2 separate regions of the Homo sapiens genome follow, and region 2 is linked to region 1. The links come from fine-mapping of genetic effects on gene expression. Tissue or cell type: whole blood. Region 1 holds a variant in brackets; the other region holds the start of a gene. All regions are shown on one strand. Distances are from middle to middle.

The links. PIP is the estimated chance that this variant, and not a neighbour inherited with it, causes the effect.
Region 2: it holds the start of INCR1, and the variant in region 1 is fine-mapped to the expression of INCR1 in whole blood (TOPMed, PIP above 0.99). The same link has a PIP of 0.9 or more in lung.

The regions. Positions count from the first base shown.
Region 1 is chr9:5,576,429-5,579,191 of GRCh38, reverse strand. The region is part of intron 1 of INCR1 (interferon stimulated noncoding RNA 1); the gene reads left to right. Among named protein-coding and RNA genes, the nearest start is that of RIC1, 51 kb to the left of the region's middle. The variant A/G (reference allele first, on the strand shown) is at 1,643.
Region 2 is chr9:5,628,603-5,631,233 of GRCh38, reverse strand. It overlaps INCR1 (interferon stimulated noncoding RNA 1), which reads left to right and starts at 1,507. Exons shown (of 3, transcript XR_007061406.1): 1 at 1,507-1,667. RIC1 (RIC1 partner of RAB6A GEF complex) reads right to left here and starts at 2,127. Exons shown (of 26, transcript NM_020829.4): 1 at 1,781-2,127. The coding sequence starts at 1,924. RefSeq lists an enhancer at 1,307-1,807 and a silencer at 1,828-2,367.

The sequences.
Region 1 (2,763 bases):
CCCTTGTTACAGGGTCAGATGCCACAGAGTTTAAGACAATTCCTTGTGCTACAATCTAATTGGAATTTATAGTCTCTTTATTTTTTATCTCTTAATGGATATGTCTCCACTTCATCCAGATAGATTTTGATTGAGGAGTGAGTTGGTTATGTACCTCCTGTTCTCAACTCTAAGTCCATCCTCCTCTCCTCTGCTCTGATGTGCCAGGGCTGGAATTTTGACAAACTTCATTTGCCAGCCTCCCTTGCCAGCTAGCTTCCTGTTAAGTTCAGTAAATGGGAAGGCCTTGGGGACTGGAAGGTGGGAGGGGGAATTATTTCCTGTTTCTAGTTCCTGAATGTGTCATGCCTGTAGCAATAGGTAGTAGAAAGGTAGCTGCTGTCTGTAGTTCTAATATTTGGCATCCACTTTTTTGCTCTTTCAGTCTTCTTATATCTTTATTACAAGTTCCTAATATTAAATACACTCTATTTTTATGACTGGACTCTGGCTGATACTAGCACTTGATACTAGGTGTGGTCATAGGAAACAGATTCTCAAATTCTGACATTCTGGGATTGATTTGATTTGTTGTTAGTGTTGGATTGGTTTGAATTGAGAGCTGAACTCTTTGCCACTAGTAATCTATGGCATGCATTGACATCATGGTTGATTAAATTATCATCTGTTCTTGCTAGGGTTGAATACCAATGAAAGGCAAGTTTCTGGAGGCCAAGTAGCTGTTGCATTTAACCATTATGGTAGTAAAGATGATTATAAGGAATGTAATGTGGGATGGCTGCTTCTGATTGCACCAGGGTGCTTACAGGAAGAAACTAACAAGTTTAGGGCTTTCACCTCAAATCATATTCAGAGCACCAGAGGGCTTCTAAGACTGCCCTGAAAGTACCTCTTATTCCTTCTAATTACAGGAATCACTAGACATGAAAGACATGACTGAAAAATTCAACCCAAATCAATCATTCACAGACTGGCTAAGTCTCATATGTGAAAGTTTTCTCAGTAATTTGAAAGGAGTAGGACTCTGAGACTAGGAATGGGGACATTTTGGTGGATTTGGATGAAACTGAGAATGTTGAAACCCCCAAGCATCCCTGAGTTTCCCTTGATAGTGGAAGAAGCCTCTCATTTCTTGTCTAATGATATTAGCCTTTCCTTGTTTGAAAGCCTGTAATAAGCCCATATGAGGCACTTGCCTTGCAAGGGAGATCCCTATTCTTTCTCAGCCCCAGTGCTCCCAACTCTCATGGCCTTTATTTAGAGTCAGTTCCCGGAATATACGGAGGTGGGAAGAGCAGAGTCTAGCTCAGCAGGAAAAGTCTTATACTTCAAAAGAATCATAAGATTTTGTTAACTTAACATTAGAGGAAACCAGGCTAGTATGTATGGGGATGAATTCTAAAGGTATTAGACCCAGGAGCACAGAAGATAACATTGAACTGGGGCCAAATTAAGGTAGTCCTGATATACTACACTTTCCAGATAGTTTTGGACTTAATGTTGTAGATGATTACAGTAGTGGTATCACGCCTTCATGTAATTCCTTTACACATTGATTTTTGGCATGGTTATGTGCTTGCTTTGGATAATGGAACATTATTAGCAAATGTGATACAAACAGAGACTTGGAAAGCACTTGCAC[A/G]TTGGGGTTTTCTTTCTTTTTTGCTGTTTTTGGATTAGACTCTATGTTGAAGATGCCTGGACTAACCTACTGAAGATACGTGGTTTTACCAACAGCCAGCACCAATAGGAAGATATGAATGAAGCCATCTGAGACCAGCCATCTGGCAGCCAAACTGCCAACTGACTGCAAATGCATGAATGATCCCACTGACACCACGTAGAGCACAAATGAGTTGCCTCCACTGAGCCCAGCCCAAATTGTTATCCTATAAAATCATAAAAACATAAACAGTTGTTTTAAGTCACTAAGTTTTGGATAGTTTGTTATACAACAAAAGCTAGCTGAAACAAATGTATTAGCTAGAGCAGCTGTGAATGGCACTATTTGCTTAGTTGATTGGCTGAAATTTGGACTCACTGGTAGGTTACATTTAATGGTGTTGAGTTGCCAGAATTTCTCTGGAATAATGTATAGGAAGGATTCTAATGGCCTAAGCCATTAGAATCTCTAAGGAGATAGAAATAAAGGAGTGATTTATTATATGTAACTGTGCCTCTTCCCTCACCACACTTGGTCCTGAAAGAGCCTAAGGAATAGTTTCTTCTCTAAAGCATTGAAAAATGCTTTAATGGGAGAAGCCCCAGCACCCTTGAACATGTTCAGGCAGCTGCTTTCTATAGGCCAAGGATGTGGTGGGAAAATCTGCCTGATCTCAATGTAGATGATGAGATCCCAGAGTAGCGATCAGCATTTTTTACCAGCAGGAATAATCTTTGGTGGTGGTTGGCTCTAAGAATTAAATAGATGTGGGCCGGGCGTGGTGGCTCATGCTTGAAATCCCAGCACTTTGGGAGGCTGAGGTGGGTGGATCACCCAAGGTTGGGAGTTCAAGACCAGCCTGACCAACATGGAGAAACCCCGCCTCTACTAAAAATACAAAATTATTTTTGTATGGTGGCACATGCCTGTAATCCTAGCTACTCAGGAGGCTGAGGCAGGAGAATCGCTTGAACCCGGGAGGCGGAGGTTGCAGTGAGCTGAGATTGTGCCATTGCACTCCAGCCTGGGCAACAAGAGTGAAACTCCGTCACACACACACACAAAAAAAGAATTAAATAGATAATAGATGTGTAGCCTGC
Region 2 (2,631 bases), 52 kb before region 1:
AGAGTATGAATAGTTTAAATTCCAGAACTGCCTTGGATTTCTAGATGTCGTATGTAACTCCAAAACCAAACAATAGACATGCTTAAGAATATTCACAATGTCCCTAAATTAAAGCATATGTTTATGCTTCTCTTATGGGGGAATAAAGTGGTTTACAGGCTTCTGGTCAATTCATAGGTCATATTGTTTACTTTTATTTAAAATTAAGTTAGGTCTGCCTTTTTAAAGGTAAGAAAAGTTAAATTTTAGACGAAAGTCTAAATTTGTTACATTCAAAAGGAATTATGTATTAAATTCAAAAGACAATTTAAATTCAAGTTCTATTTTTTTCTGCATGTGCTTTAAAGTTGAGTTATATACACCTAAACAAATTAAAAATTATTCAACTGGCATATACATTGTAAACGAATATCTCATTTAGGAACCAGATGATACTTTATATATATTTACACATATGTTTATATATATACACACACACATACATACATATATATTCAAAATACAATCAGGCACTAGACAAAATAGTCATATTGTTGGTATTACGATTTTATAAGTTTGTTTTGTTCTGATTTGCATTTGAAAATTAGATCAGCCAAAACTTGATGGCAAATAGTCTGATTTACAGCCCAACTATGACAGTCAAAGGAGACACCAGAATTACCCGTCACTAAATCCCATCACCAGTATTACCAGGGAAGTGGGTGAGGACTGTCAAGGGCATTACAGGTAATGGAACAGCAACACACAAAGATTTGGGGATTTTAACAAACTAAAACCAGTATTTCACGAACACCTAATAAGGACAAGATCACAACCTATCCCCACATGGTCAAATTAACTTGGAAAGGAGAAAAACTTCACTCTGACATCGATTGGTACTGCCTTCTTTGGGGAGGAAAAAAAGCATTTTTATACTCTGAACTCTGTCGTTCTCATAGACAAAGTTATAGCAGTGTTTGCAGAGAGTAGGGAGTATCCCATCCACCACTTATTTCTTTCTCATATCTACTCAGTAATTCAATACAAGAAAGAAAAAGATAACCAGGACTTAAAGCAAAAACAGAATTCAGTTCCATGCTCCTCCCAAGCCTTATTATTTCCAGGTGTTATAACTGGGAGTTCCGCGGACAGATTTGAGTTCTACTTCCGCTCCTTTAACCCCCTATTCCGAAGAGTCCAAGAGCAGCAGCAAAGAAAAAGACCAACTCGAAAGTGGGGAAGGGATGTTGGGGTTAAAGAGGGGAGTTAAATAACCAGACCTTTAGTGAAGAATAAAGAATTCAGGCTGTAGTTTGTAGAAATAAGTTATTACAGGCCTGTAAAGTCTGGCGCTGGGTAAAGCCCAAGAGGCTTTCCCTAACTCCAAAACGGCGACCTTTAAAGTAAGGGAGGGTTGGGGCACCACAGCGGCCGGATTTCTAATTGTGGAAAGTTTAAACAAATTTGTCCCTCGGGGAATGGGGGAAGGGAGAGAAGAACAAGTCTGGGCTCGGCCGGGGAGCGTGCGGAGTCTGCACGCCGCGGCCGTCGGTCCAACGCGGGGAGGCTCAGGGATTTTCGGCAGCAGCGACTTCATCCACCCCGGACCGCCGGCTGGAGGACGTGCCTGCAGCCGGCGGGTACCTGCGGCCAATTCGGTGGAACGAGGACGCGGACTGCGAAGGCAGGTGGGTCTGGCACGAAGGGGCAGGAGTCCTAGGCTCTGGGTGGAAGTTGGGGGTGGGACGGCGCCGGGAGGCCGGGGAGGCAGCGGCGAAAGGCGGCGGGCGGCTCTACTTACTCGGCTGTACCAGATGCTGAGGCGGGCCGCGGCCAGCACGGCGAAGAAAGCCCTCTGCGGGTCGGACTGAACGTGGAAAGGCGCCTCGGCCGGGCTCCCCAGAGGGCACAGCAGCCTCTTGGGCCAGCCGCTCAGAAAATACATGGTCCGTGCGGAGCCCCCGGCGCCCCCAGTTGCGTCCGTCACACTCAGCGGCCCCGGGCTGGTCGCCCACCTCCCACACCGCCACCGGCCGAGTCGGCGGCGGCGGCGGCGGCAGCTCGGGGCATCTGCCCGCTGGCCTGGCCGGGCCGGGCCGACGCAAGGCTGCGCGACGAAGGCACCCCCAAGCTGACGGGGCCGAGTGTGGGGGAGGGAAGGGGAGGGAGAGTAGGGACACAGAGAGGGCGGGAGGAGCGCGGAGGCCCGCCCCGACCCCGCCCCTTCCTCAGGCCGCGCGGGCGTCACCACGCCGCGCCGCGTGGGTCGGGCCGGGGAGGGCCCGCGCGCGCGCTCTGGAGACTCCTGCGGTCTCCCTAGCTGTTTCTTGAAGCTCTGCATAAGCCTCGCCCGCGGCCGCCGGGTTGCGTCCGCACTTCTGCGCGCTGGCCCCTCCCTTGCTCCTCTCCCTAGCAGTCTCCAGGGTTTTACCGGGAGGACCTAGGCAACGGCCTGAGACTCCGAGGCAAGTGGGGCGAGTCTAGGGATAACGCAGCAGCAAGGCTACTGGGCCGGTGGAACACGCCCTGGCCTGGCCAAATTGGACCTCCCTTCCGGATTGGCGGGGTCTCGGTGGGGGCGGGCCGGTTGCCGGGGGGAGCTGGAGTCACGTGACGGCCGGCGCGGTTTCCCACTTTGGGCTGCCGGCCGCT